4 linked regions of the Homo sapiens genome follow. The protein of the gene in region 1 interacts with the protein of each later gene in a biochemical or structural test. Each region holds a gene or a part of one and is shown on either strand. Other genes may lie near its edges.

Evidence for each region.
Region 2: the proteins of SNTA1 (region 1) and ADRA1D interact in a test that uses a peptide from one of them, tested with the Homo sapiens proteins (2 studies listed by BioGRID and IntAct).
Region 3: the proteins of SNTA1 (region 1) and CYSLTR2 interact in a test that uses a peptide from one of them, tested with the Homo sapiens proteins (2 studies listed by IntAct, with this or other methods).
Region 4: the proteins of SNTA1 (region 1) and ABCC4 form a complex in vitro, tested with the Homo sapiens proteins (2 studies listed by BioGRID and IntAct, with this or other methods).

What each region holds. Positions count from the first base shown.
Region 1 is NC_000020.11:33,406,649-33,413,143, reverse strand, and holds the end of SNTA1 (alpha-1-syntrophin), read left to right. Parts: exon of another isoform or gene 1-361; coding exon 362-569; exon of another isoform or gene 570-717; coding exon 718-848; coding exon of another isoform or gene 849-958; exon of another isoform or gene 959-2,812; coding exon 2,813-3,009; coding exon of another isoform or gene 3,010-3,041; exon of another isoform or gene 3,042-3,091; intron 3,092-4,255; coding exon 4,256-4,443; intron 4,444-4,544; coding exon 4,545-4,637; 3' UTR 4,638-5,187; downstream 5,188-6,495. UniProt on the Homo sapiens protein: Adapter protein that binds to and probably organizes the subcellular localization of a variety of membrane proteins. May link various receptors to the actin cytoskeleton and the extracellular matrix via the dystrophin glycoprotein complex.
Region 2 is NC_000020.11:4,238,789-4,246,976, reverse strand, and holds part of ADRA1D (alpha-1D adrenergic receptor), read left to right. Parts: intron 1-8,188. UniProt on the Homo sapiens protein: This alpha-adrenergic receptor mediates its effect through the influx of extracellular calcium.
Region 3 is NC_000013.11:48,648,473-48,657,268, reverse strand, and holds the start of CYSLTR2 (cysteinyl leukotriene receptor 2), read right to left. Parts: upstream 3,341-8,796; 5' UTR 3,252-3,340; intron 1-3,251. UniProt on the Homo sapiens protein: Receptor for cysteinyl leukotrienes. The response is mediated via a G-protein that activates a phosphatidylinositol-calcium second messenger system.
Region 4 is NC_000013.11:95,298,161-95,306,544, reverse strand, and holds the start of ABCC4 (ATP-binding cassette sub-family C member 4), read left to right. Parts: upstream 1-5,093; 5' UTR 5,094-5,230; coding exon 5,231-5,304; exon of another isoform or gene 5,305-5,594; intron 5,595-8,384. UniProt on the Homo sapiens protein: ATP-dependent transporter of the ATP-binding cassette (ABC) family that actively extrudes physiological compounds and xenobiotics from cells.

The sequences.
Region 1 (6,495 bases):
GTGTGCCTGTAATCCCAGCTACTTGGGAGGCTGAGGCAGGAGAATCACTTGAACCTGGGAGGCAGAGGTTGGGCCATTGCAGTGCAGCCTGGGTGACAGAGCGAGGCTCTGTTTCAAAAACAACAACAAAAACCCCACAAAATATATGAACACGTGTGTATATGTCACACTCGCTTGTTCCTATGCCCCATGAAGCCCCAGCAACTGTGGCTGGAGCCCAGCAGTGAGGGTTGCTCCTGATTCTCTCACGGACATCCCCCTGGTTTCTCCTGGTTTGGTGGTGGGTGGGGTTTCTTGGGCCAGGGTTGGGCAGCTGCAGCCTAATGGTCAGGTCCTTGTCTCCACCCATTTGTGCCTGCAGGTATCTGGAGATCTGCTCGGCAGATGGTCAAGACACCCTCTTCCTGAGGGCCAAGGATGAGGCTAGTGCGAGGTCGTGGGCGACTGCCATCCAAGCCCAGGTCAATACTCTGACGCCGCGGGTCAAGGATGAGCTGCAGGCACTGTTGGCAGCCACCAGCACAGCTGGGAGCCAGGACATCAAGCAGATTGGCTGGCTAACTGAGCAGGTACCTGCTGGGCCTGGGACCTATCCCTCTCTCTCTTCCGCTCCTTTGGAGCTGGCCCTGTTCCCAGTGCCCCTGGCCACCTCACCCTGCCCTGGCCCTCTGCCCTCTCTTCCCCCACCCATCCTCACTGCTGTTTTGTTCTCTGCAGCTGCCCAGTGGGGGCACAGCCCCCACCCTGGCCCTGCTAACTGAAAAGGAACTGCTCCTCTACTTGTCTCTCCCCGAGACCCGCGAGGCCCTGAGCCGGCCAGCCCGTACTGCCCCACTCATCGCCACCAGGTACCCACAGGCAGGGGCAGTATGTCTCCCCCAGAACTTGCCAGGAGATGCTCCAGCAGGGCCCCAGAAGCTGGGAACTCCAGCCCTGTCCACCCTCAGCTATTCCCCAGGTGACCTGAAGCAAGTCTCTGCCCTGTCTGGGCCTCAGTTTCCTCATCTGTAAAATGGGTGCTTGGAACAAAAGGATATAAGGTCCCCATTAGCCACTCATTCGCTGACACTTATGCCTTGTGCTGCATGGTTCAGAGGGCACAGAGCTGACCCCAACAGTTTCTGCCTCCAGAGAGAACCTTGTCTGGCTGGGGAGACAGACCCAGGAACAGCCATTACAGTGCAGGGTTTGTAGGAGCCACTTAACTCTGTTGGGGTAGTAGAGGAAGGCTTCAGGGAGGAGGTGACATTTGAGCTGGACTTTGATGGATGAGTAGAAGTTTTCTGTTTAAGAAAGGGTGAAAGAGCATCCCATGCAGAGAGAACATCATGGTCAAAAGTACAGAGGCATGAAGGGCTATAGCATGTTCATGGAGCTATGAGTTTGTGATAACCAGAATTCATGCAGGAAATGGAGAGAAGGGAGTTGGCAGGGCCTGATCTTGAAGAGCTTCTATTGCCTGATTAAGGAATGTTAGCTTTAGCTTAAGAGTTTGGTAGTGTTGAAGGGTTTAAGCTGGGGAGCGAGGTGCTCTGGTTGCTTTAAGAGAATCCCTGTGGCTGCCACGTGGAGAATGCAGCGGAGAGTGCAGGATGGAAGTGGGGAGGTGCTGCAGTCATGCAGGAGAGATGATGGTGGCTGGGGGAGGTGGAGGTGGGTGGCAGGAGCAGATGGGGAAGAAAGGCAGCATTGGCATTGGAAACCACATGGGTGTAAAATTAACAGGGCTCCGTGCTTGCCAGATGGGGCGGGTGAAGGAGGGGTCCGGAATGAACAGGAGGTTTGGAGCTTGTGTCTGGGTGAGCGTGGGACTGGGGGTGGGGGTGGAAAGGGAGGAGGCTGGAGCAAGATGCTGAGTTAAGTCCAGAGTGTGTGTGGGATGGAGAGGGAGCTTGGATAGGAAGCCTGGGGACTCGAGGGTCTGCAGCTCAGGGCTGGAAAGTCGAAGGCGGGTGTCAGCAGCAGTCTGTGGCGGGGGGAACTGAGCTATAGGAGAAAGAGTGGGTGGAGGGAGGAACAAAGAGGGATATGGGGCAGAACTTTCTGCCCCAGAGAGGGGCAGTTGGCTTACCAAGGCCACACAGCAAGTGAGAGTCAAGCTGCAGGGGTCTGAAGTCCTTGTCCCCCATGTCTCCTTACCTCAGGCTGGCTCTGGCCCGTGTGTCAGGAGCCTGCTGGCTACTAGGGATAACTAGGTCCTGGACTGTCTGCCTAATCAAGTGATTCAAGTTAGGCAACAAAAGTTTACTGAGCACCTACTGTGGGCAGGCATGGTTTTAGTTACTGGGAATACAGTGGTGAACACAAGATCAAAATTTCTAACCTAGTTGACATTCTAGTGAAAAAGACAGTCAAAAACCAACGAAAACAAATAATAAAAAGTATAATTTCTGGTACCATGATTAAAAAGTAAGGCTAGTGAGTGACAAGGGTGCTATTTTGGACTGGGAGGTCAGGGAAGGCTTCTCAGAGGAGGTGACATTTAAACTAACATCTGAAGGAAGTGAGGGAGTGAGCCGTGCAGATAATCAGGGAAGCATGTATAGGCAGAGGGAAGAGCATATGCAAAGGTGCTGAGGCAGGCATGTGCTAGGTGTGTGTGATGACACCAGTATAGCCAGAGCCAAGGGAGTGACGGGGAGGGTGGCAGGAGATGTCTCCTGCTGAGTCAATCAGTGCCCCCTGGCAAGTCCTGTCCTGTTAGGTGGTAAAGGATTTACAGGGTTTCTTCCCAGGTCACTGGCCCCTTTGCCCAGAACTATTTGCCTCCGGCCTGAGGCCTCATGCTCAGCCCTCTGCCCCCAACCCCCAGACTGGTGCACTCAGGCCCCTCCAAGGGCTCAGTGCCCTACGATGCAGAGCTCTCTTTTGCCCTGCGCACGGGCACGCGTCACGGTGTGGACACTCACCTGTTCAGCGTGGAGTCACCGCAGGAGCTGGCTGCCTGGACCCGCCAGCTTGTGGATGGCTGTCACCGGGCCGCCGAGGGTGTGCAGGAGGTGTCTACAGGTGTGCTGGGAGGATCTGGGAGTGTCCCTCTGGTAATAAGCCTCTTATCCCCAGGGGCATTCAAGCTTCCTTCTTTAGGGCACTTCAGGAGGGGATAGAAAATGGGGTTTGGAGGTCAAGGTGGGTGGATCACCTGAGGTCAGAAGTTTGAGACCAGTCTGGCAAACATGGCAAAACCCTGTCTCTACTAATAATACAAAAATTGGCCAGGTGCGGTGGCTCACGCCTGTAATCGCAGCACTTTGGGAGGCTGAGGCGGGTGGATCACTTGAGGTCAGCAGTTTGAGACCAGCCTGGCCAAAATGGTGAAACCCTGTCTCTACTAAAAATACAAAAATTAGCCGGGCATGGTGGTGGGCGCCTGTAGTCCTAGCTACTCGGGAGGCTGAGGCAGAATTGTTTGAATCTGGGAGGTGGAGGTTGTAGTGGGCCCAGATTGTGCCACTGCACTCCAGCCTGGGCGACAGAGCAAGACTGTCTCAAAAAAAAAAAATAATAATACAAAAATTAGCCGGGCATGGTACTAGGTGCCTGTAGTCCCAGCTACGCAGGAAGCTGAGGCACGAGAATCACTTGAACCCGGGAGATGGAGGTTGTGGTGAGCCGAGATTGCGCCCACTGCACTCCAGCCTGGGTAACAGAGTGAGACTGTTTCTCCAAAAAAAAAAGGAAGTTGGGTTTGGGCCCTCTGTTTTGGATGTGCAGGTGCCCTAGCAGGCAGAGACTCTTCTCCCTGGGGTTTTCTTGCCCCAGTTTTGTCAATCTGCTGGTGAGGATGTGAGAGATGGCACTTGGGGTAGGGTTGCCAGAGGAAATAAATACAGGACACCCAGCCTCATTTGAATTTCAGGTTAACAATGAATACTTTTTTCACAGAAGTATGCCCAAATTAGTCATTGTTTATCTGAAATTTAAATTTAGCCGGGTAACTCTGCAGGTCTCCAAGGGCGGTGCTTGGTAGATCTGATGATGCCTTTATCAGCAGTGAGCCTCCTGTCCATGGCACATTTTAAGCTCCCCCTTTCTACTTGTGCTGCTGGAAGTGGGACTGGAAGTGGGTGTAGGTCCTCTGAGGGTGGGGGTGATGACTCTCTGCAGGGTGGGTGTACTGGTGCCACGACAAACAGTGAGCCTCCCATCCCTGGAGGCATTCAGGCCCCACTTTGTAAGCTGCGGTGGGGGTTGGAGGTTGGGGTGTAGTCTCTGAGGTGCCAGCTGTGCCTGTACCTATGTGCCCTCCCTGCAGCCTGCACGTGGAATGGGCGTCCCTGCAGCCTGTCTGTGCACATCGACAAGGGCTTCACACTGTGGGCGGCTGAGCCAGGTGCAGCCCGAGCTGTGCTCCTGCGACAGCCCTTCGAGAAGCTGCAGATGTCTTCAGATGACGGTGCCAGTCTCCTTTTCCTGGATTTTGGAGGTGCTGAAGGCGAGATCGTGAGTGAGGGGCTGCCTCTGCACCCTGGGGAGGAGGGGGTGTGCACTCTCGGAGGCCAGGCTGGCCAGGGCCCTGACTCTTCTCTCCATCCACCCTCCAGCAGCTGGACCTGCACTCGTGTCCCAAAACCATAGTCTTCATCATCCACTCCTTCCTGTCGGCCAAAGTCACCCGCCTCGGGCTGTTGGCCTAGAAGTCGCCGGATGCACTAGCCCTGAAGAGGGGTGTCCATGACATGGCCTGAGCTGGGCCTCCACCGACTGCCTGCTCACCCCTGGGCTGAGGGAAGGGAGAGGAGAGGAACAAGGGCCTCCGAAACCCCAACCCTGAGGGAGACTGGATTGGTCTTGGGGCCCAGGACCCAGACGCAGGACAGAGTGGACTCTGCCTGTGATGGGGTGGCCTTCCTGCTGCCCCCCTCCACCAGTGCCTTTTGCAGAGAGATATTTTGTGTACACAGAAGCCATTCCGAGTCTGGGACCTGCCCCTGTGCGGATCCTGACCCCAGCCAACAGCTGAGCTGCCGGGCCTCCTCGAGGCCCCTAAGCCACCCCCAGAGGTCCCATCTGAAGCTGGAGTACCCTGGGGTCAGCAGCAAGAGAAAGAAGAGGAGATTTTCTGTTTGTTTTTCCCCTCAGCCCTGCCACCGTGGGGAGTCTGGTTTTTCTCTTCATCCTGTCTCTCTCCTCCTTACTCTTGGATAAATAAACAGCCTGTGAGCACACAGGCAGCCCGGCCCAGTGTATGTGGTCTGTGCCTTGGCCTTTGGGTCCTGGGGTGGCCCCTGCAGTCCCAAGATGGACCAGACCAAGGACTAGGGCACCTTTCCCTGGAGAAGAACAGACCTTTACTACATGGGCCAAAGACAGTGTATTGGTTATCTATTGTTGTGTGACAAATTATCCAAAATTTGCAGCTTAAAATGACAAATATTCATTATCTCTTAGGTTCTGTGGGTCAGAAATTTGAGAGGGGCTAAGCTGGGCTGTTCTTGTCTCAGGGTCGCTCATGAGGTTGCAGTCAAGTTGTCGGCTAGGGCTGCAGTCATCTGAAGGCTTGACTGGGGCTGGAGGATCCATTCCAATACTGCTCATGCACATGGCTGTGGGTAGGAGGTCTCAGTTCCTCACCATGTAGGGCTAACCCTAGAGCTGCTGCTTGAGTTTTCTCATGATATGGCAGTTGGCTTTCCCCACAGTGAGACAGAAGAGAGGGCAAGGAGGAAGCCACAAACAGTGCCTCTTATGACCCGGTCTTGGAAGCCTTACACTGTTGCTTCTGCTTTGTTCTATTCATTAGAAATGAGTCACTAAGTTCAGTCCACACTCAAAGGGAGGGGAATTAGGCTCCACCTCTTGAAGAAAGGAATGTCAAAGAATTTGTGGACCCATGTCAAAGCCATCTTAGAGAGCTTCAGGACCCTTTCCTGCAGAAGGGAGGTGGAGTGGAATGTGTTTGGTACTTCGGAAACTGCGATGTGCTGGCTGGATGTGAGTGGGCAGTGGTTATGACTCCCTACCTAAAATCACAATGACAATGGCAATGATGGAGAACTTTTTTTTTTTTGAGACGGAGTCTTGCTCTGTCACCCAGGCAGGGTCTCATCTCACTGCAACATCCACCTCCCGGTTCAAGCGATTCTCCTGCCTCAGCCTCCTGAGTAGCTGGGATTACAGGCGCCCACCACCATGCCCCACTAATGTTTTGTATTTTTAGTAGAGATAGGGTTTCACCATGTTGGCCAGGCTGGTTTTAAACTCCTGACCTCAAGTGATCCTCCTGCATCAGCTTCCCAAAGTGCTAGGACACCGTGCCAAGCCCAGAACTTTTTTTTTTTTAAACTTTTGAAAGGTTCAGTTTCTTTAATGTAGCGACAAGATAAAACAAAGATGATGTGCCTGGTGTGATGGCTCATGCCTGTAATCCCAGCACTCTGGGAGGCTGAGGTGGGCGGATCACCTGAGGTCAGGAGTTCAAGACCAGCCTGGCCAACATGGTGAAACCCTGTTGCTACTAAAAATACAAAAATTAGCCGGGCATGGTGGCACCTG
Region 2 (8,188 bases), about 29 Mb from region 1:
CATGGCTGCAACCTCCGCAGGCCCAAGCCGGGCCTTCTCTGCCTCTCCCAGGCCTGGACCCTTCCACACTGCCAGGCTGAGTCAGGAAAGAGACAATGGCCTCCTTCCTGTGCCCCCGGAAGCCCTTTCCACACTGCAGCCACAGTGAACTTTATATATTATAAATTAGATGTGTCACTCTCCTATTAAAAGCCCTCAATGCTTTCCCACTGTCCTGAGAACAAAATCCAAACTCTCTATCATCACCTATGAGAGGGTGACCTTCAAATATATTATTGTCCGAACCAAAATAGGACACTATGAATATTTACACTGGGACCACAGGCTGGAACTGGGGCCATGCAGACATGTGGTCCCCCTTCCTACAATGGAGATCTCAAATGAGAGCCATCTCCCTCTCTGCCCTCCCCCTCTCTGCCGTCACGGTCTTGCCGCTTCCCTCTGCTCTGGGCTCCTCCCCTCTGACCCTTTCTGGTTTCTTGCTGGAGCCCCTGCCTGTCCTCAGGCCTTTGCACTTGCTATTCTCTCCGACTTCGCTGTCCTTCCCAATCTCTCCTGGCCAACTCTATCCTTTAGGTCTTGGCTTAAATGTTCCCTCTTCAGAGGGACCTTCTTGGACCCATGACCCTCAGTGGTGTCCTTGTTTTCTCCCTTGAAGCACAAGGTTCGCTTCCTTCACTAGATCATTGGTTGTAATTACATCTGTGTGCTGCTTGTTTTGTTTCTGGGACTGGCCCAGAAGCTGTGTGAGGGCAGGGCTGTGTCACCTGGGTCATCACTGAGTCCACGGCACTCAGCATGGGCCTGGTATGTGGGGAGCAAAAGAGAGCACTGCAGTGAGGATCACAGGCTCTGGCGCCAATCCCAGCTCTGCCTCCCTCCCGCTAGCTGCGTAACCGTGGGCAAATCCCTTAACCCCTCTCTGCTGGCTTTTTTATCTATAAAATAGAGATGGGGTGATGGTAATCATGCCTATCTATAGGGCCATCGTGGAACTGTAGCTTTTGTAGTGGATACTCAATATAGGGTAAGGAATGAATAAGTAACCCTTGAAAATCATCCAGCCAAAGGTTGTTGCAGGGATGGGGCAAGCAACGGACCCTAAGCAACACACTAGGAGAAGCAGGCAAGTAAGCAGGGAAGAGAAAGTTGGTGCCCGCCCCTTTAGACATCCAAGCCCATCCCCCAGGCCCATCGCCCCAGCCCCTGCTCCAGCCTTGCCCAGCTGTGCTGGGCTCCTGGGTGCCCTCATTCAACCCCTGCCCCTCGGTTCACACTGGGCCCCTGTAGGGAACGCCCAACCTGTGTAGAATGCCAGCTCCCTGTTTTTTTTTCCTTTTAACTTCCTTTAAAATTTTAGCTTAATGCACAAATAAGGAGAAAACAATAAAACAAGCACCCACATGCCTGTAATCACCTATACTGAACAGATGTTAACATTTTGCCATATTTGCCTCAGACCCCTTCCTCTCTCTTTTCAAATAAATAGAACAAGCCATAACTAGATCCCCTCCTCCTGTCCCTTCCTCTTTCTCTCCCTGCCTCGCCAGAGATAAATCTGGAGTATATCACTCTTATACAGATGTTCATACTCTTACTACAAACATCTGTATCCATAATAATATACTGTTTTGTTTGTCTTTGAGATTTATATGAATGGCACCTTGCCATGCGTATCACCGTTCTTCAATTTGCCATTTCACCCAACATTATGTGGCTGAGATTTATCCATGCTGGGCCATTTTCACAGCAGTACATTTGAGAGTATTCCACAGTGCGTTGATCCTGCTGAATGTTAGGTTTTTCTAACTCTTCCTTGTTCCAATCAACACTGCAAAAGGCCACTGCTTTCTTTGAGGTCCACGTCACGTGACTCCCTCTTCCAGGAAGTCATCCCTTAATTTCCATGACCTTTGCTCCTTGCTGGCACGCACAGCTCTTTCTCAATCCTTACATTTCTGCTGCGCCTCACATGTGGTGTAGGGAATTGGGGGGTGGAGGAGGCCCTAAATCCTCCTTCCTAATGGTCTGTGCTGCACCAGGCTTCTCAGGGCACCTTTCCGAGTGCCTCAGAGCAGAGCCCAGGGACACTGGTGGAGCTGAATTGAGTTGAATCTGGCAATGATGAGCAAACAGGACAGAGGCCAAACAAGGAAACAAAATATTCCGATCTGCCCCAGTATGGCTTGGAGGGCAGAAGCAGCAGAGAGGGAGGGCAGAGCCCATTTGGAGCAGGAGGGGTCTGGAGGCTGTGCAGGAAGGAGAGGGGGCCAGGAGGTCCTGACACCCCCAGCATGAGGCCCAGGCCTGGGAGGAGGGAGATACCTTTGAAGGAACAGGGAACACTGAGCAGCAACTTTTGGGGGGAATGTGGACCCCCAGGGGCTGGTATATGTTGGTGTGGAGGTACCAGGTGTGTGGTAGGGGATAGAGAACATTGGAAACTTGGATGCAGGGATCAAAGATGGGGATGGTTGCAGGAGCATGGAGTGCAGTCTCCCAGAAAGAGGAGGAGAGAGAAAAGAGGATCTCAGGACAGAGCTTTGGGGAGCATTGACGTTGAAAGACCCAAAGGAGGCAGAAAAAGAGGCAGCCAGGAGGAGCAGGATGGCTGTTGAGGTGGCACCTGCCTCCTCCCAGGTCCTGGTCACCACACTAGCTGTGACGAGCACCAGAGACGGAGAGATTGAGAAACAATGTATATGCCAGCAAGGAATGGGCCCACATAGGCCCTGGAAGTAAAGGCACCCAGTAGGGCCACAGCAGACCTGGGGTGCCCTCACTCACACTTCCGCACACAAAGCCAGGTGGTAGCAGCAGCCACAGCGGCCTGGAGGGCATCAAGAGTCTCAGGGAAGGGCCCGGAGTTCCAGAGGAACATTGGCACTGTGAGCCATGGGCTGTCACCTGTAAACCTGGAATGCTGTGGTCAGGCCAGAGGGGCAGCACCACAGGAGGGCTGTCCTGAACTGTGGGGGCATCTAAGGACCCAAGTCACTGGCTGGGAGACACTGGGACACAGATGTGGGCACCTAAAATCCAGAGAATCCCAGAGAGTAGCTGGGGATCATCCCCTACACTTCCAGCTGCCCCGCTTTCCCTGTGAGGAACAACTGCAGAGCATGTCCCCAAGGCAGGCAGAGGGTCAACCAGCTCATTAGACCGCAAGTGCCCCGATGCTGCGATTTCAGGGAGCAAGGCTGGGGAGGGCAGCACCAGCTCCTCTGGGACCCCCAGGAAGCTGCTGGTGCCAGAGGTGCGGAGGTGCGTGTAGAACGCCCCTCACCGAGAGAGAGGGGAGGGCACCCTCCTGCCCACGTTCCGTGGTGATGCCCAGTTGAGCTGCCTGCTCCGTGCATAGTGACCCAGGACAGTCCCGTTCCTTGCCTGTGACCGGTGGGATAGCTAGTAGTGCTCCCCTTTCAGTCAGAGATGCTCCACTTTGGAGATAGAACGTAGTGACACCAATCCCTGGGGCCTGTGAAGGAAGTGCTCTTGGCAGCCCCGCCCATGCCAGGTACAATCCCCTACCCTCACCGCAGCAAGCTGGTGCGGGCTGGGTGCCACGGAAAATCACAGGGAATTGTCTAAATCTGCCCTCCTCATCGGGATCCTTCAGCCGGATGCCCCGAGGAGCCCAGACTTGTAGAGTGAGTGTGGGAGGGGCCGCAGTGAGAGCCTGCTGCCTGCGGACTTCCAGAGAGGACCCAGAGAGAGGGGGCGTGGCTGCGGCGGGGCTGCGTCGTTGGGACAGTTGGGTAGGTTGGAAAAGTCCCTGATAAAAGCCTCTGAAGCCTCTGCGCTGAGAAGCTTCGTGCAAGAATCCCCTGACCCTAGAGGTCTAGGCCAATTGTGTAGAATGCAGATCATCCTCCCTGCGGGTGTGAGGGGTACCGGAGGGGCTGGGGAAACCCTGCCCCAGGCAAGCACCCAACTGCAGAGAAGCTTCCTCCTCTCCCGGGAGCCTCCAGAGGCCCGTGTCCCTCCTGCGTGTTTTCATGGCGGCAGCATCTCACTGCGTTTGGGTTTGGGCTGCCTGGTAAGTGTCCCCCAGCCACGCCCAGAGGTGGACTGTCTGCCGAGACCTACATACACACACAAACACACACACACACACAACAGCCCCACCCCTGTCACTCCTAGTGACCACTCACAGCTCCCAGGCTTTCGATCCCAGCTCTCTCTTGTTGGGCAGATCACCGAGCATCACTGACCTCCACCTTCCAAATGCCATCCACTCAAAGCAGCCCGGAGACTCAGAGCCCAGGGCCCCCCTCAAATGCACCTCAAGGCATACAAGCTGGGCAGAGGCTCTGATATCAGAAGTCCCAGGACAGCCCAGCCAATGTCCCACTCCAGCCATCTGTGAGCCACACCTGAGCCTCTCTCCTATCTTGTGAGTCTGTGCTCTGTGATAGTGCCTGTGTCGCTGACCACCCCCAGACTTAGATGTCCCATGTGCTTCTGAAACACTCTGCATGTACTTTTATCACGATGCACTGTAACTGTCAATATTCAGATATGCATCATGAAGTGTGAGGGCAAAGGGAACTACACACACGTAGGCACAGGAGTAGCAGTATTGCTGGGTTGCTCTGTGGTTTGGGAGACGTAAAACGTGTAGCCTATGAGAAGAGGGGTCAAGAGATGAGGCCAGATGCCATCTGCAGGAGAATGGATAAATAAACCATGTATCCATAGACTGGACCACGGTACAAGGAAAAATAGCAAACTACTGATGCACACATGGATGAATTTCATGGATGTTATACTGCGCAAAATAAGCCAGGTCTGAAACTCAAGGTGTACACACCTTTTGATTCTGTGTAGATGAAGTTCAAAAACAGGGGAAACTTATCAATGGTGATAAAATCCAGGATAGCGGTTACCCATCTGTGTGTGTGCAGTGAGTGTACTAACTGGAAGAGAATGCTAGAAAACTTTCTGAAGGGCTGGGACAGTTCCATACCTTGACCTGGGTAGTGATGACATTGGTGCATGCATATGCAGAGCCATCAGGCTGTGCTGTGTGCTTCAGATACACACGCTTTCTAAATTTGACTGTCTACATGTTATGCCTTTGTTACAGTGAGAGAGAAGGCAGGAGGAGGCAGGGGGGAGGCTGTGAGCCCTGCTTAGTAATTGGTGTCCAGGCTGGAAGGCATACTTTGGTGGCCCCGTGCGGAGAGTGGATTATGCATATGTCTGAGAGTCGGCCAGGTGCTAAAGGACTCATCTCCACAGGCTGCCTGAGGTTGTGCAGGGGTCTGTGGATGAAGGGGAGAGGCAAGGGATGCTTTGTGCTAGGTCTTCAGTAATGGCATCATTGTCTCCCGGCCCAAAAGCCTGAAGAAAGGGCTGGCATTACATCTCCTACCTGTGCTTTGTGGCACCTGGAACATAATAGGTGCTCAGTAAATGTGTGCAGAAGAAGGAAACGGTAGAACCCATGTTCTATTCCCATCCTGCCACACCAAGGGTCTGGGTGGCAAAGCACAGCCCTCCATTTATTTATTATTTTAATTTTCTTTTATTGTGGCAAGAGCATATAGCATGAGCTCTACCCTCTTAACACACTTTTAAGTGTAAATATCATATCATTAACTACATATCATTAACTATGGATACATATCATGTGATACTGTTGCACATCAGACCCCTAGAACTCATCTATCTTGCCAAACTGAAACTTTATGCCCATTGATTAGCAATTCCCAATTTCCTAGCGCCCTTTCTCCCTGGAAACCACCATCCCACTCTTTGAGTCTACGCATTTGAGTATTTTAGAGACCCCCATGTAAGTGGAATCATGCAGTATTTCTCCTTCTGTGACTGGCTTATTTCGCTTAGCATAACAGCCCTCTATTTAAAGTCAACTCTCTTTACTTGTTGTGGGTTGGGGGTGAGTCCCCATTTTTGTGGCCTAAAAAAAAAATCTTTAACAGGACAGTTAATATTTATTGAGTAATTACTATGAATAAGCAATGAGCTAGGGTTGGGTTTTTTTCATGTTTTTAACATGGAAAGTTTCAAACACATACATTGATAGAGAGAACCCTGTTAGTATAATGAACCCCTGTGTACCTGTGACCCAGCTTCACCCCAAAGCTAACCTAGATTCTTTCCATCCTCACCCACTGTCCCATCACTGTAGATTCTTTTGGATTTTTGTTTGTTTGTTTTTTGAGATGGAGTCTCTCTGTCTCCCAGTCTGGAGTGCAGTGGCGCAATCTCAGCTTACCGCAACCTCCACCTCCCGGGTTCAAGTGATTCTCGTGCCTCAACCTCCCAAGAAGCTGGGATTATAGGTGTGCACCACCATGCCCAGCTAATTTTTGTATTTTTAGTAGAGACGGGGTTTCACCATGTTGGTCAGGCTGATATCAAACTCCTGACCTCAGGTGATCCACCCACCTCGGCCTCCCAAAGTGCTGGGATTACAGGCATGAACCACTGCACCCGGCCACTGTAGATTATTTTGAAGAACATCCAGATACAGTATCCCTTCATCTGTAAATCCTTCAATATATAGTTCTAGAAGATAATAACTGTAAAAAAAAAAAAAAAAAGCCCACAATCCATTATAACACATAAAATCATTTAATATCATCAAATATCTACTTAGTGTTGAAATGTTGCTGGCTGCCTCGTAAATTTTTGGTTGGTTTGTTTGAAGCAGAATCCACAGAAGGAGCACACGTTGCATATGGTCGATTTGCCTATTAGGTTTCTTTACTCGGTAAGCCTCCACTGCTTTTTTTTCTTTCCATTTATTTAGTGAAGACACCAGATTGTCCCCAGGTGTATCCTGTAGTTTGGAGTTTGCATCTCCACAGTGCCATTTAATGTGTCCCTCTGTTCCCTGTACTTCCTGGGTGCAGATTTGGCCTGGAAAGAATTCTTCTTTTCTGTGGTGTCAAGATTGACCAGAATTCATGTGCTGTCAGCCTGCTCTGTCCATTACAAAGTGACCCATCGGCCTTTCACCTGCTGGTTTTGGCAGCCATTGACCATGGCCTGGACCCATTATATCACTGGGGCTTGAAGTGGGGATATTCTAATCCTATCATACCTCCTTCATTTATTCACTAGCATTCTAAAATGATTTCACCACTAGCTGTTTGGTTAAATAGAATCTGTACAGCAAAGGCAGGGAAGATGTTCAATATTCCTCTTTATTTATCAGAGGAAGAGTCAGTTCTCTAGCATTCTTTCCAGACGTGACCACTGAGGCTGTTTGAGTACCATGGTAATGTCATTATTTTTAGACATCCTTGCTGTTCCAACACATCACAGACATCATTGTTTTGGGCTTGGCCAGTGGGTACTCCTTCCAGTTGGCTTCTGAGATCTTTGGCAGAACCTGGAGCATCTTGAGCTCTTCTTTGCTTTCTGATCTGATAAGATGCTTCAGGCTCAGCTTGCATTTTTTCTGCCCTAGACCTGGAATTAGCCATTTCCCTAAAGAGCCCTAGTCTGTTTCAATGGAAGATGACTGAGCTGTTCATTGATACTGAGTTGGTCACTGATTCAATGGACAGATCTAGGAAGTACATTTTATTTTCAGTAGAAGAAAAACACAACACTGATGGGGACTTCTGTCCTTGGACATATATTCCTCCTTCCCCTCCCCTGAAGATCTTGTCCTCTGCCCAGCTCCTGCTGATATGTTTGTCCCAAACATCTGAGGAACTGTTGATCACCCTGCTCCATTCATTAAAGATCTGGGCATCAGAATCACACTGTTTTTTCCTCACTCCCACCCCTACCCTGGTCATCAGTGTGACTCCACTGTACTGAGGCTGACCCATGATGACACTCTGGCCTTGAGACTACAATGACCTTCCCCTCCTCCCCTCCTCCAAGGCCTATGCCCTGGTCCATGTGCCCATTTTACTCTCCCTCCCCCAGAATCCTCAGTGAAGCTCTTCCTCCTGAGTCCATCTGCTCCTGTCCTCCCTGCTTGGTTCCCATTACACCTGCTCATCAACCCCAGCCTTGACCAAGCCTTCACCTCCCTGCCCTCACCTTGTCTCCCAGTCGATTACACATCCCTTCCTTAGTCAGCTAGTCCCAGAGGATGATCTGTTGCTTCATCCTCTCTTGCCGTCTTTAATTCCCTCACTTCCTCCTATTTCTGTGAGCCCCAGATCCTGAATTAGACCATTCCTCCCTATGATGTCCTGGT
Region 3 (8,796 bases), on another chromosome or scaffold:
ACTGTACTGCCACAAAGTCATCAATCCATTGGAAGAGGTTTTCCTTTAAATTCTGTCAAGATTATATTTTCTCCATGGGTCAATTAATATAAAGAGGTTAATAAAGTTCAACAGAGATAAACATTAGCTGTAACTAATAAAGTCTGCATTCATTGGGTGAATTGATTTATTTACACAATGCCTTTATTCTCAATGGAGTTTATGTGCTAGGTTCTATGCAATGACTCCAATGTCAGAGTCTTGGTCCAATAGAACATACTGTACATAAGTAACTGCAGTACAAAGGAGGCAGTGGCCAATACCCTGAGAAATAAAGAAATACAGTGCTAGGGGTTTCTGACATGGATTTCAAAAAGCTCTCTAGCAACGCTGAGCACCCACAGCAAAATGCTTGCCTTTCTTTGTATTATCCAATTTGGCTGCCGCATTAGCCAGAGTTCATTGGGTAATTGCACAATCCCTTGTGAGGCTTTTATCTTAAAGGCTTACCCTTGGGGAACTAGAGTGCCTCAGATATCTGGTGCACAGAGCAAACTATAGAAAAGCAGAAAGGATCTTTGATTCTGGAGTACACAGGAAATGCTAACGATGCCCAAGGTAACCATCATGTACTCATGTACACAGCAATGAGTACACTGAAAAAATATATCATCTTTCCTCCAAAATGGAGGCTGCTCATGTGATCCCAGGTGGATAGGAGGCAGAGTGATATAATGAATGAAAGCATGTGCTTTTGAGTTAAAAGGGACCTGGGTTTAAGTTTCAACTCTGCCTTTTAGTCTCTTTTATTACTGCAGCCGTCTGAGCTTCAAACTCTCATCTGCCAAAGGAGCACTGGAGTGAGTATTGATGAAAAAAAAATGGATGTTAAGTGATTAACTTGGTGCCCAACACATGTGAAGAGTTCAGTCAGTACTAGCTAACAATCACAATAAGATTTGTGACAATAATGTACAAAACTCAGATAATTAAACAGGAGCCTTCTTTATGGTCAAGTGAAAGAAGATGGGGCCATTTCATCTGGAGAAGAGCCAACCAGAAACACATGAACAATTCTATTTATTTTTATTACACAAGTAGTACACATTCATGGTAAAAAAAAATTACAATGTAATACAAGCTGAAATAAACTTAAATAATGAACTTTACCACCAACCAGACATAGCTAAAATTTTGCATATATGGTTTTTTTATCTTTCTTGAAATATATACAAATATTTTTGAACAAAAATGAGCACACTTATAATGCTGTTTGTATCTTGCTTTTTTCTTATTTCGTGTCATGATCACCTTTCTTTGCCAACTAACAACATCAATGTCATCATTTAACTGGATACAGAATAGCCAATTATATAAACATTATGAAATTTGTTTAACCAATTTCCCACAATAGCTATTATTTAAGTTGTAAGAAAGGACCATGTGCCCTGGGCTCAACCAGATTGGACCAGTTCTGGTTCCACCTGGGAAAGATCCTATGTTCTCTTGGTCTCATCTTTACCATCTTTAAAATAAGAATTACATCCTCCAGTTCTTAAGGCTAGTATGTGGATCAAATGAACTGATGCCTGTAAACATGTTTTGTAAATAGTAAAGTACTATGTGAATGTTTACATTCATTAAAGAAGGTACTAAACAGGTGTTCTCCACTGAGTCAAAACAAGAAGAAATTAGATTAACATGCTGTTGGTCTCATTGGGATGATTCCTAGCCTGTAGCAGGCTGAGTGCAACAGCAAATGCTTCAGTGTGGTTTAGGCGCTGTGGCTCTGTTTTCAGTCCCTGATGGGAGAAACCAGAACGCAGCCCTGGCATAAACTCTATCCACTTTCCTCCTGAGGATATGAGGTCCAGAGAAGGTAAATGCCATGTCTATGTGGCTCCTGAAAGCCAGAGTGAGCCACCTTCTGCCTCCAAATCCAATCCCATCGATCTTCGCTGTGCCCACAGTGTGTTAGTGAACTGGCCAGCTATTAAATGCCCACCTTGTGTTTAATCTTGAAGAGTTTTAAAAGGAAGCCTGGCTGCCTTGGTAGATTCTAGCAGATATGGGCGTGATTCAGATACATTTAGAACACACTTGAGCCTCAACTTCTCTAACTTTTAACCACCGAAGCACTGGAAACAAATCCATCTCTTTAAAACATTAGTAAATCGAAACACAAGTAGATTCTTATCTCAAGAGTTTATGTGGCTGAGTAGATGATAGAAATTTCTAGAAGTCTTATGTTTCCCACAAATTATTTTATAATTTGCATTATTTATGTAGTGTTGAAAGGGAGATTTGGTTGGCTTGCCTTAAATTATACCTCCCTTTCTCCTAATACATATTACTCTCAGGTATATTTCAGAGACAGAAAAATATTTTGAATGACCTAGGTCATCTGTTTTTATGCTGACCACCCATTAGAACCACCTGAGAAGTTTCTGGAAAACAAGATAAAATACTGCAGATGACTCACTGATCTCCAAAAGTTAAGCTTCAGTTATTCTAGGGGTAATTTTCTAATCTCCTCAGAGTCGGGTGATTCTGGCCAGATGTGCAGCCAGGGTTGAGAAACACTGATTAGGGTCCCAGTGGGGTAAGGAACAGATTATATGCTCATGATCTCACATACTCTTTCATTCTCATTGTGCCTCTGAGCAAAACCATTGAAATATATGTGCTCAGATTTAACTTCTTCTACCCCTAAAACAAGACACTGAATGGAAAAAATATATCTTATATAATAGAAGGACCCAAACTATGAAAAAGAGGATAACAGCCAAAAATGGAGGAAGTATAGTAAAGTTCCTCAATGCAATAATATGCAGCAGCTTTAATTTATGATTACAAAGAATTCACAGCAACATGGAAAAACCATAGACTGATATGGAGGAAATGAATACAAACTTGTCCATAGTGTAGGGACGCAACTATGAAAACTAAAGTTATATGTGCATACACACACACACACACACACTCACACACACACACACACACACACACACACACACACACACACACACACACACACAAAGGGACGATCCCCAAAATATCAATAGAGGCTATTTTGGTGGAGAATTTGGCTTCTTTCAACATTTTTATACTTCCACAGTATTTTTTAAACTACCATGTACATGATAGGAAAATAACATTTATAGTAGAACAAAACAAATTTACTTTTAAAAAATTACTCCTCTGACTATTATGTGATCATCAAGTCATGATGCTCAACACTGAATTAACAAAACAAAGATTAAAATGCCCACCTGAAGGTCTCTGTCTTTCAGCTGCCCTGGCTTCTGCTGCCTCTATCTCTCCTGCCTTTCTCCTCCGAGTAATTCAGGTTGCTCATTTCAAAGAAAAGTGAAAGAGCAAATTATATTTATGAACAGTGCCAACCAATAGCAAGCAAGTCAGGAAGTGTAGCAGGTCATCTGTGCTTTTTAGAAGCCATTGTAGATGTTAGTGCAAGCTCCCTTCTCAAGAAGGGTGAAAATTTCCAGTTAGGGGCTATGTCTAAAAAGAAGAAACCTAAAATTGCCCTGCCCCTCTAATGACTGGTTTTTTGTCATTATCTTTCTCAAGAGATCAAGCGGATATGATGGGTTAGAGTCAGGAATTTTAAGTGGCTTTTAGTTCTCCTAAATGGTTTCTGTTTCCATGGCAACAGAAATAGCAACATTGCCTTACACACATAGCACTTTAGACTTTTTTAAAGCACTTCCCTCACTCACTTGCATTTTCAGCTCACTTGCACTCAGGCAGAGACCTTATCCAGTCTGCTGAAAATGTTCTGTCAGAGGTCACCAAAAACCTCCTTGTTGCTTACATAAAAAATCCTTTCTCAGTCCTCACCTTCCTTCCCCTCTTGTTTGCATAGTTGACCATTGCCACTTTCCTGAAACTTTTCCCTTTTTTCTCTGACTTTCCTGGTTCTTTTTCTACCCCTCAGATTGCTCTTCTTTGCCTCTCTTTCTGATGCCTCTTCTTCCACCCCTTTTCTACGTGTGAGCTTTCCCCAGAGGTCTGTGTTCTGACTTCTTCCCTCCTTCTCTTGCTTTTACCTATCTGATCCACAATCATGGCCAAATTTAATGTGGCCCAGGTGGAGCTTTTCTCTTCCTCTCTTAGTCCTGCATCCCCCCATCTACCCTGTCTAAGCAAATGGCACCACAATAATTTAGCCAGTTCATCCATCCATAAACCTAGAAGTCACTTTTAACTTCCCTCTTTCTTCCACCACCCACTTCTGAGCCAACAAGTTCCATTTGTTCTGCCCATAAAATATGTTCCAAATCGAACCATTACTCATCTCTCCATCACTGTTCAAATCCTCGTTTCCTGCATAGAAAGCTGCAGTAACATTAAGCAAGAAAAATAAGTAAAAGGGATCCAAATTGGAAATAAATAAGTAAAATTTTGTCTGTTTGCAAATGATAAAATCTTATATGTAGAAAAACCTGAAGATACCATGCACACACACACACACAAAACCCCAATAGAACTAATAAGCAAGCAAATTGAGCAAAGTTGCAGGACAGGAAATCAATACACAAAAATCAGTTGCATTTATATACACTAACAATAAACAATCCAAAAATGGAAACTAAGGAAACTATTCCATTTATAATAGCATCAAAATGAATAAAATACTTTGGATATATACTCAGTAGTAAGGTTACTGAATCTTGTTGAGATCTCTGCACTCTCATGTTTACTGTAGCACTATTCACAATAGCCAAAATATGGATCACCCGAAATGTTCATCAACAGAAAGATGGATGAAAAATGTGGTATATATTCACAATTGAATACTATTTACTGATTTAAAAAGAACAAAATTTGTCATTTGTGGCAACATGGATGAGCTTGGGAGACATTATGTTAAGTGAACTAAGCCAGGCATAGAAAGATAAATACTGCATGTTCTCACTCACATGTGGAAGCTAAAAAATTTGATCCTATAGAAGTGGAGAGTAGAATAGTGGTTACTAGGGGCTGGGAAGAGTACTTTCTAGGGGTGAGGGTGAGTGGTTTTCTGTGCAGCTTCTTCATGCAGCTGTGGAGAAGGGGCTGGGACCAAGGTTGCTCCTCTGAAGACAAGGTTCTTCCTGGGTCTGGGATTCTATTTCTAGTATTTTATTTATCCCAATTAGAACTCACAGTACACAAATGTTATATTACCATTCTCATCTTTAGGGGGCAAAAAGCTTGAAACAACATTTCATTCTACAAGCAGTCACTATAGATATTCATTCTTCTCCAATAAAAGCCCAATTGGCCAGGCGCAGTGACCTCACGCCTGTAATCCCAGCACTTTGGGAGGCCAAAGTGGGCAGATCACGAGGTCGGGAGTTGGAGACCAGCCTAGCCAATATGGTGAAACCCTGTCTCTACTAAAAATACAAAAATTAGCCAGGCATGGTGGCACGCGCCAGTAGTCCCAGCTACTTGGGAGGCTGAGGCAGGAAAATCATTTGAACCCGGAAGGTGGAGGTTGCAGTGAGCCAAAAAGCCCAATTAATTGACTAATGTTCATCTCATTAAAATGAATAAAGTGGGCTGGATGGAGTGGCTCACCCCTATAACCCTAGCACTTTGGGAGGCTGAGGCAGGAAGATCTCGAGTCCAGAACAGACTGAAAGCAGTCTGAGTGACACAGGGAGACCCCATCTCTAAAAAAAAAAATACAAAAATTAGCTGGACATGGTGGCATGTGCCTATAGTCTCAGCTACTCAGGAAGCTAAAGTGGAAGGATTGCTTGAGCTGGGGATGTTGTGGCTGCAGTGAGCTGGGATCACACCACTGCACTCCAGCCTGGGTGACAGAGCAAGACTGCCTCAGAAAAAAAAAAAAAAGGCTCATGCCTAATCCCAGCACTTTGGTGGGCTGAGGCGGGTGGATCACGAGGTCAGGAGTTCGAGACCAGCCTGGCCAAGATGGTGAAACCCCGTCTCTACTAAAAACACAAAAATTAGCCTGGCGTGGTGACAGGCACCTGTAATCCCAGCTACTTGGGAGGCTAAGGCAGGGAATTGCTTGAACCCGGGAGGCGCAGGTTGCAGTGAACTGAGATCGTGCCACTGCACTCCAGCCTGGGTGACAGAGTGAGACTCTGTCTCCAAAAAATAAAAAATAAAAATAAAAATAAAAAAAATTAAAAACTTTAAAATAAAATAAACAGTGAAAAAAAATCGATCCTACACTCCGAGAGCTAACTTTTGAATATTAGGTTTTCAAGGAGCAGAATATGTTTCAAGAGTATTAGAAAGATAATGAGGGAAATGCTTTCTCCCTACTCCCTGCTTCTGAATCTGTAAACCTCAGAGAAAGGAGAAACCTATTCAAGACTTTCTTTTATTTTTAGGACAGCCTGGGATCTCTAAGCACTCCATAGGCAGTAAATTTGCTGGAGAGTGCCCATTAGACACTCTTTCTTTGTACAATTTGGACAGATGATATAAAGAGATGCAATGTCATTTTAACCGGATTTGTCAGGATGGAGCAAGAAATCATTCATTTAGAGTAGATAGGGAAAGGGTCGATGACTTTAAAAAGAAGATAATCCTAGGGAGCAGAGAAAGGAATAAACACATTATCCTATGTGCTGCTCTTGATGATTTAAAGGAAAACATGGAAGCGTGTTTAATGTATATGGCACACAGAGAACTTCTCCGGAACTTTCAAAGGCCTGCAGAAGTAATCAAGAGATGAGAATCAACTCCAGTTTTGTAGGAGACTTCCAAGTTTGTTCTCAGTTGAACAAAGTGAGTTTAAGAGAATCAGGGCCAGTTTCTTGCTGATTACAGTAATGTACCAGCCACAAGGCCTTTAGTTAGACTTTTAGAGACATAAGCTTGAGTCTAGAGGATATATTCCTATAAGCACAAACCTGTGATTTTCAAAAGATCAGAAGCACTATTAAGTTACTAAGGCATCAGAGACAGTAGTTTGTTTTCATAGTGCAAGGTTAAATACAAAGGAAGAAGTCAGCGTGAATCATGTTTCTATTTAGGTCATTAAGAAAGTGGAAGAACAGGCTGGGCGCAGTGGCTCACGCCTGTAATCCCAGCACTTTGGGAGGCCGAAGTGGGCAGATGACGAGGTCAGGAGTTCAAGACCAGCCTGGCCAACATGGTGAAACCCTATCTCTACTAAAAATACAAAAATTAGCTGGGCATGGTGGCAGGTGCCTGTAATCCCAGCTACTTGGGATGCTGAGGCAGGAGAATCGTTTGAACCTGGGAGGTGAAAGTTGCGGCGAGCTGAGATTATACCGTTGAGCTCCTCAGCCTGGGCAACAAGAGCGAAACTCCATCTCAAAAAAAAAAAAAAGAAAGAAAGGGGAACAATGGAAACAAACTTGAAACCTCATGGAATTTAGAAAGCAACCAACTTTATGTGTAAGAGAGCCTGTTCTGTGATAAGACAGAGAAAAGAATTACGTAGTGTAGTGGGCTACACATTGGCACCAAAGACATGCCCATATTCAAATCCTGGATTCTGTAAATGTGACCTTATGTGGCACAAATGGTGGTTAATTAAGGATCTTGAGGCAACGAGTTTATTTTTCATTATCCAGGTGAGCCCAAAATACAATTACATGTATCCTTGTAAGAGAGACGACAAAGGAGTGTCAACAAGCTCACACAGGGGAGAAGGCCATGTAAAATGATTAAAGTGATGCAGCTATAAGCCAAGGAACACCTGGAGCCACTAGAACTGGTAAATCAATGAAAGACTCCCCCTAGAGCCTTCAGAAGAGGGAGTGCAGCCCTGCTGGCATCTTGATTTCTGACTTCTGCCCTCCAGAACTGTGAGAGAATGAATTTCTGTTGCTTTAATTTAAGCCATCAAGTTTGCAGTACTTTGTTATGGTAGTCCTAGGGAACACATCTACATTTCCCTTCTCCAACCAAGGGAACCCAAAATTCAGGGAGAAAGTTATAAACTTGCCATAAGATAACGCAATAGACTTAACTAATTCATAGTGAGCTTGCATCCTTTTTAGTTTGTTTCGATTTTCAGTCTCTCATATGTAATTCTCCCTTCAAAAAGAACAATTTAGCTTCCCAAGCAGTGTCAGCTCTCTGGAGAGGTGATGAGGCTGGAGTGAGCATTAATGTCCGCTCCAGTCCAATCAGAGTTGGGAGAGAAAGTAGCCGGAGAACTGTGCAGTGCGTGGGCCACATGACACCCTCTCCCCACTCATCCCTGGCGTCCCCCCACATACACATACATACACACTTACCTCTTTAATTTTTTTTTAGTATGTTGAGCAAATTGGAAGATTGCCAAATTAAGGATTCCAGAAGGGGGTTTTTCCAAAAGGGAGTTTTTCTTTGCATAATATCGTATGAGAGTGAGAATCAGGAGATTCTGGTTTGAACCCTAAGAGGCCCAGCCAACGGCCCTTGGAGAGGAGCAGGCCCATGTCCCACGGCATGATTTATATCACAAGTTTCAGGCAGAGCAGTCTTTGTGGAGATCATTGAGGACTGAACTCTGACCTCTTTCTCTTTGCTAAAAATTCTCTCCAAAAAGGCCTGGAGAGAGTCATACCTACAGACCATCAATCTGGCTAAACATGTCATTTTGACCCAATATATTGTATCTTGCTCTCATAACCCGACTCTGGCATAGCATCACATGATGACTAGCAAACTTCCTTCCTTTCATGTAAACATTTCTTTAAGCTGACTTTACACAGAGCTTTGTTCCTTTAACCAATTACAAATTAAAGAATCTTTGATCCCACCTATGACCTGTAAGTCCCCCAATTCATGATATCCCACCTCTTGGGGCTGAAC
Region 4 (8,384 bases), on another chromosome or scaffold:
TTTGTTGAGTTCCTTGTAGATTCTGGATATTAGCCCTTTGTCTGATGAGTAGGTTGCAAAAATTTTCTCCCATTTTGTAGGTTGCCTGTTCACTTTGATGGTGGTTTCTTTTGCTGTGCAGAAGCTCTTTAGTTTAATTAGATCCCGTTTGTCAATTTTGGCTTTTGTTGCCATTGCTTTTGGTGTTTTAGACATGAGGTCCTTGCCCATGCCTATTCTTAAGACATCTTTAGGCTGGGTGCTGTGGCTCTCACCTGTAATCCCAGCACTTTAGGAGGCTGAGGCTGGCAGATCACTTGAGCTCAGGAGTTTGAGACCAGCCTGGGCAACACAGCAAAACCCCCTCTCTACCAAAAAAATACAAAAGTTAGCTGGGCATGGTGGTGCGTGCCTGTAGTTCCAGCTACTTGGGATGCTGAGATGGGAGGATGGGCTTGAGCCCGGGAGGTTGTAGTGAGCCAAGATTGCACCACTGCACTCCAGCCTGGGTGAGAGCTAGACCCTGTTTCAAAAACAAACAAACAAACAAACAAACAAACAAAAAAGAAGACATCTTCCTCGTCTTTGCAGGCTCATTCCCTGGCCTAGCTGTCATGTATCCAGAAGGCGTTCACTAACGATTTATTGAATGAATGGGAAAAAACCCCCATCCTTTAATTTGTATATTGCCTTCAGAGTGTATTCACAAGTTGTGAGACTCACAATAATCCTGTGAAGAAGGAAGAGTGGGGATTCTGATCCCTATTTTGTTTTTACATGTATTTTTATGTTTTTAGAGACAGGGTCTCTCACTCTGTCTCCCAGGTTGGAGTGCAGTCGTGCAATCAGAGCTCACTGCAGCCTCAAACTCCTAGGCTCAAGTGATCCTCCCATCTTACCCTCCCGAGTAGCTAGGACTACAGGTGTGTGCCACCATGCCTGGCTAATTTAAAAAACATTATTATTACTATTATTATTATTATTTTTTATTTTTATTTTTTGTAGAGACGGCATCTCATCACATTGCCCAGGCTGCTCTCGAACTCCTGGCTTCAAGTGATGCTCCTGCCTTGGGCTCCCAAAATGTTGAAATTATAGGTGTGAGCTACCATGCCCTGCCTGACCCCATTTTATTGTTGTTGTTTTTTTTTGAGATGGAGTCTAGCTCTGTCACCTAGGCTGGAGTGCAGCAGCGAGCTCTTGGCTCATGGCTCACTGCAACCTCTGCAGCCCAGGTTCAAGTAATTCTCCTGCCTTAGCGTCTCAAGTAGGTGGGACTACAGGCGCATGCCACCAAGCCTGGCTAATTTTTATCTTTTTTTTTTTTTTTTTGAGACAGAATCTCGCTCTGTCGCCAGGCTGGAGTGCAGTGGCATGATCTCGGCTCACTGCAACCTCTGACTCCCTGGTTCAAGCAATTCTCCTGCCTCAGTCTCGCAGGTAGCTGGGATTACAGGCACATGCCACCACGCCCAGATCATTTTTGTATTTTTAGTAGAGAGGGGGTTTTGCCATGTTGGCGAGGCTGGTTTCTAACTCCTGACCTCAGGTGATCTGTCTGCCTCCGCCTCCCAAAGTGCTGGGATAACAGGCATGAGCCCCTGCGCCCGCCCCGACCCCATTTTAGACCTGAGAAAAATAAGGGTCAGAAAGGTTAGGTAACAAGTGAAAAGATATAAAGCCCTGGCCCCCTGGTTCCATATCCACTCCTCTCTGCAGTCAGACACTGCTCTATAGTATCTCTTCCAAACACCACATTGTTAATGTTCAGAAAAGAATGTTAAGAAGTTCCAAAAGATCTTAATTAAGAAAAAAATAAGCCTCTGCAGGAGCCGAAGGGACTGAGCACTTTGGCAATTTGGAGATGGCTAATGACGGTTCTTACACAGTTGTTGGGGGTAGGGAGAGCATTCTGGGACAGTCTGACAGAGGAAGTCACTAGACTTCTAACTTTAGTAAACAGGTTCTCTAGCTTGGAAGTAGAACTGGTAGCTCAGCATTTACTGGGCTAGAAAACTTAGGAAGTTTCAAAGGGCACTGTAAATCAGGTGAAGGCTGACTATTTTGGTTTATAGCTTATATTATCTGAGAAAGAGCTATCAGAAAGGTAGGTTATTGAATGATCATAGCTTTCCCACAGTAGTCAACTTAAAATATTGTGTTCCTTTTTGTGACAGAAATTCTGAAACATGAGCTGGTATGCTGGCGAGTGCCTACAATCCCAGGTACTTGGAGGGGTTGAGGCAGGAGGATCCCTTGGGCCCAGCAGCTTGAGTCCAGCCTGGGCAACATACTGAGAGCCCATCTCCAAAAAGAAAACCATTCTCAAACATGCATGAAATGTAAGAAAATAAACCCCTATGACACATCATTTGGCTTCAAAAATTATCAATATTTTGCCATTCTTATGTGCTTGACTTTTTTTTTTTTTGAGACAGAGTCTCACTCTTTAGCCCAGGCTGGAGGGCAGTGGTGTGATCATAGCCTACTGTAGCCTCCAACTCCTGGGCTTAAGCAATCCTCCCACCTGAACCTCCAGCTGGGACTACAGACTCACGCCACCACACCCATCATATTTTTACATTTTTAGTAGAGATGAGGTCTCCCTTTGTTGCCCAGGCTGGTCTAGAACTCCTGGGCTCAAGCAATCCTCCCACCTGAGCCTCCAGGTTACATGGGACTACAGACTTACTCCACCATGCCCATCTAATTTTCACATTTTTAGTGGAGATGAGGTCTCCCTATGTTGCCCAGGCTGGTCTAGAACTCCCGGGCTAAAGCAATCCTCCTGTCTCCACCTCTCAAAGTGCTGGGATTATGGGCTTGTACAGCCTGGAGTGCAGTGGCACCTTCTTTTTTTTTTTGAGACGGAGTTTCACTCTTGTTGCCAAGCTGGAGTGCAGTGGGATGATCTCGGCTCACTGCAACCTCCGCCTCCTGGGTTCAAGTGATTCTTCTGCCTGAGGTTCCTGAGTAGCTGGGATTACAGGCATCCACCACCACACCCAGATAATTTTTTGTATTTTTAGTAGAGATGGGGTTTCACCATGTTGGCCAGGCTGGTCTCGAACTCCTGACGTCAGGTGATTCACCTGCCTCAGCCTCCCAGAGTGCTAGGATTATAGGCGTGAGCCATTGTGCCCAGCCCAGTGGGCACCTTCTTAACTCCTTGTAGCCTGGAACTCCTGGGCTAAAGCCATCCTCCTGTCTCAGCCTCTCGAGTAGCTGGGACTACAAGGGTACGCCACCACACCTGGGCTAATTTTTAAAACTTTTGGTAGAGACAGAGCCTCACTATGCTGGCTAGCCTGTGCTTGACTTTTAAATATGTGTTTGTGTAAGGCTTTCTTTAAAAGCTATTAACTATACTATTTTAGCAAATATACATGGGAAATTATCAAGGAACAATAAAATGATCTTGTTCCAAGCACCATGAACTTGGAGCCTTTCATTTTTTTTCATTCAGGGTGGATATGAAGAGCAGCTGCTGACCTTGTTAAGGTAGCCACAGAAATGACTGAAGACTTAGAGGTGGGAGTACACAAGCTTGGAACAAGATTTTGTTCATTCATTCCTACAGCCATTCAACCAGCATATTCTGGGCACTTCTCATGCACACTGGCCATCCACCAGGGAGACAGGCCATGCTTAGACATAGGCTTATTGCAAATCATGTTTTATCCTTTCTTGGCTCTAAGACTGGACAAGTTCTGCCTTTCAGCTTCACCTTCCTCATCTATAAAGTAAGGATAACCTTGAATGGGGCACTGATAGAATTAAAAGTGAGATAATTGGTCGGGCGTGGTGGTACATGCCTGTAATCCTAGCACTTTGGGAGGCCACGGTGGGAGGATCACTTGAGCCTAGGAGTTTGAGACCAGCCTGGGCAACAAAGTGAGAAATTATCAAGGAACAATAAAATGATCTTATTACAAAGAAAACCAAATTCTCAAACATGCATGAAATATGAAGAAAATAAACCTCCATGACAATCATTTGGCTTCAAAAATTATCAGTATTTGAACTTGGAGCCTTTGATTTTGATTTTTGCATCTCTACAAAAATTACAAAATATGAGCCGGGTGTGGTGGCGGGTGCCTGTAGTCCTAGCTACTTAAACTGAGTTGGGAGGATTGCTTGAGCCCTGGGAGGTCGAGGGTGCAATGAGCCATAATCGTGACACTGTGTGTGAGACTGCCACACACACACACACACACACACACTAGTGAGGCTACGCACTCAGAAATGCACATGAACATCACTGGTATTCTGGAACCCACGTGTCGTTTGCCACTGTTATCTGTTAGGCTTTAGGGCTTGACGACAGAAATCATCAGGCAGTCTCTCTTTCCTCTTATATTCCTTTCCCAATCTAAGGGGGCAGCAAAAAGCTCAGAGGTCCACCGTAGCATGCAACATGTGAGATGCCTAAAGCCCGCCCCCATCGACGACAGCATTCATCCATCTCCCGAATTCATCTGGGTCATACTCTCGAGTTACCCGGCTTTCTTGAGGTCTTGCAGCTCTACAAGGATAATCTGTGGCTAAACTTTGCTGTCGTCCAAGGTCAAATGTTTGGCTCACAGGTTGAAGAGCCTCCCATGGCACCGTCGTTTGGTCCTGAGAAGGGAAAGGCGCCCAGGGGGCGGGCTGCTAGAGCACGAGGCAGCTGTCTCCCAGTCTTCCCAAACCCGTAGCCGAGGGGGCGTTTCTGCGGCGCAGGGGCGGGCACAGCCGACGCCTCCCTGCTCCACCTTCTGTGTCGGCGCCTAGACTCGGATAGTGAATTTCGGAAAGTTTCACTCGGGTTCGTGCACGTGGGCACCTCCGGACCCGGCCTCCTTGCCGCGCGCTCTGCTACCCTCTCCATCCAGCGGCGCAGGCGGCCCTCGCCTCACCCCTGGGCGTAGCTCTGGGCTCCCTTTGGCGTCGCCAGCTTCGCCTCCTCCCGCCGCGTCTCCTCCCGCCGCGTCACCCGTCGGTCCCGGCCGCGCTCGCACGCGGTGCGCAGCTCCCGGGCTCCAGGCGGCGGCGCGTAGCGGGCGCCCCCGAGGCGGCGGGCCTGAGAGGCGGGGACGGGGCGTGCCGCCGGCGCCCGGCTCCCGGAAGCGGCTGCTTCACAGGCTCCAGCCGAGCGGACAGGCGTGGCGGCCGGAGCCCCAGCATCCCTGCTTGAGGTCCAGGAGCGGAGCCCGCGGCCACCGCCGCCTGATCAGCGCGACCCCGGCCCGCGCCCGCCCCGCCCGGCAAGATGCTGCCCGTGTACCAGGAGGTGAAGCCCAACCCGCTGCAGGACGCGAACCTCTGCTCACGCGTGTTCTTCTGGTGAGTGTCCCCGCCCGAAACAGGTCACCCTGCAGCCGCTGGCGCCGCGGACGCACTCTCCCGGGGCCGCGCCCGATGCTGCCCAAGCCCTCTGCGGCTGGGGGCGAGGGGAGCGCTTTCCTACGCCACGCGGTCCACGCCGGGGCTTTCTGCTGCGGGTGGCGCCGCCCCCACGCCGGCCGCGTGGTCCCTGCCTGCGCCCCGGGGCGCGGCGCAGGGGGACGCGGGGACGCGGGGCCAGTGGCTTTGCTACTGGAGGCCCTGCGGGCCCTTAGGGCTCGGGGGAGGAGGAGCAGGAGGTGGGGAGGCGGGGAACCCAGGCTGCCGAAAGGGGGAGTCTCTTGCCCAGCGGGAGAAGCGACTGCACCCCTTACACGCCCACCCTTCGCTGGCTCCCGCCTCCTGCTCTGGGACTCGCAGTCTCCTGAACTCAAACGCACCTTTTCCTTTCTTTTTAAGTAAGCAGCTTACGAACAGTTTCCTTTATCTGATCTCAGCCAAAGCCTAATTAGTGTCCTGGACCTATGCCATCTCCCAGTAGTGTCCCCACCCCTTCCGATATTCCTTACGAGACAGCTCGATCCAACTCCACGTCCCGTTGTACCTCTCTGTGTCCCGGTGTCTCTGTATCTTTTGTCTCAGTGACCAGGGCTCTCCTTTTGCCTCTTTGTGGGAATCTCACTGTGTGTCCATGTGGGTCGTGGTACCTAGTTATGGCAAGTTTCATGTGGGTAAAATAACACTATTATTATTTTTCATTTATGAATGGGGACCCTGTTCTTGAACAAGATTTTCCAGGATTTGCTTTTAACTGGGACATGCACCGCCACGACTGGAGTCTGTCTTTGACCAGCTTCTTTCCCCTGTTTCCAATACTTTCACTTCCACGTAGGAGGACAGCTCGGAGGTGGGGTCCCTGGAATCGCTAACCTTCAGAGAGGTGATCCATGGTCTTGATGCAGGTGGTTCCTACCAGGAGTTCTACCTTCTTAAAACCACCCCAGGGCTCCTGAGCTGGGAGGGCCCACAGCCCTACCCATTTTGTGCAAGGAAACAAACGGAGAAAGACTCGGGTGACAGTAGTAACTAAAATTTCCATCTTGGCCTGGCGCGGTGGCTCACGCCTGTATCCCTGCACTTTGGGAGGCAGAGGTGGGTGGATCACGAGGTCAGGAGTTCGAGACCAGCCTGGCTGACATGGTGAAACCCCGTCTCTACTAAAAATACAAAAATTAGCCGGGTGTGGTGGAGCACGCCTGTAATCCCAGCTACTCAGGAGGCTGAGGCAGGGGAATTGCTTGAACCCAGTAGGCGGAGGTTGCAGTGAGCTGAGATCGCCCCACTGTACTCCAGCCTGGGTGACAGAGTGAGACTCCGTCTTGGGGGAGTGGCGGGTGTGTGTGGGGGAATTCCGTCTGCTAACTACATAAGCCTGAACCTTTGAAGGGCTTCAATCTCACTTGGATGATTATTAGATCTTCTGTTTCTTGACCTCTGCCGCCTCATCTTTCCCACATGTTGATATTGCCTTTTATTATGGGACAACCTAGGGTGGGGGTCTCCAATTTTTTGGGTTCCCTGGGCCACACTGGAAGAATTGTCTTGGGCCATACATAAAATACACTAACACTAATCATACACTAACACTAATGATAGCTGATGAGCTAAAAAAAAATCGCAAAAAAAAATCTGATGTTTTAAGAAAGCTTACGAATTTGGCAGCCCATGGGCCTCAGGTTGGACAAGCTTGACCTAGGGGATTCCAAGAGGATGAGTCGCTTACTCTTGTTTCGATTGTGGTACACTCAGTGGGTGTAGGAACTTCTCTTGGTTGTTTGGCGGCCTTTCTCTTAAGGAGAGGGGCACGTGGAGGAGGAAGGAATATGGGTGTGGTTTCTGCAAATAATAACTTGAGGTAGACAAATGGTCTCCTCAACTTCAGGCAGGGCAAGGAACTTTTTTTTTTTTTTTTTGAGACAGGATCTTGCTTTGTGCAAGCTGTGACCCAGGCTGGAGGGCAGTGACACATTCATAGCTTGCTGCAGCCTCCAACTCCTGGGCCGAAGCAATCCTCCTGCCTCAGCCTCCCGAGTAGCTGGGGCTCCAGGTGTGTGTCACCATGCCCGGATAATAAAAAAAAATTTTTTTTGTAGAGATAGGGCTCTCTATGTTGTTGCTCAGGCTGGTCTTGAACTCCTGGGCTCAAGTGTTCCTCCCGCTTCGGCCACCCAAAGTCTGGGATTACAGATGTGACTCCTGCCTCCTTATATTTTTCTCCCCCTGCATTTTCAAAATGTAGGTGGCAGGGAAATAGGAAGTGATGCGCTCCCATTGATGACTTGAGTAGGTGTTCATTTCCGGTTTCCCTGATGGAAGGGAAGGAGCTAGTAGACCTCTGTTTTACTCCGAGGACACTTAAGCTGAGAGTGGTTAAGTTGCCTGGACTCACACAACAATCAAGTGTCAGAGCAGGCTCCAAAGCTGGGCAGACTGGCTCCCCAGCCTCTTTGGAGCTGCTGTACTGAGCTGCTTCCAGTTCAGGTGCTGTCGGAAATGCATGGAGAAGGCGCTCCCTGTTCTGGAAGGCTAGAGTTTCTCAAGGGAAATTCTTAAAGTACCTGCAGTTGGAGATGATGCATGTGTAACAACTATTAGTGTGCTTTAGGGCAGCTGTTCTCAAAGCATAGCACTCAGAGCAGCAGCATCGGCATCACTTGGGAGATTCTAAGAGATGCAGATTCTCCAGCATCCACTCTGGACTGATTCAGTAAAACTGGAAACACTGGGTGTGTGGGTGGGGGTGGTGAGGTTTCAAGTGCTCCAGGTGATCCTGATTTGAGGCGCTTACTGCTTCCAGCTACTCCTTTCATTGGAGTATTATTACAGTATTATGCTTTTCTTTATTTTTAATTGTTAAAATTTCTTTATTTCTTTTTTTTGAGACGGAGTCTTTCTCTGTTGCTCAGCTCTGTCACCCAGGCTGGAGTGCAGTGGTGCAATCTCTGCTCACTGCAACCTCTGCCTCCTGGGTTCAAGTGATTCTCCTGCCCCAGTCTCTCAAGTAGCTGGGACTATAGGCG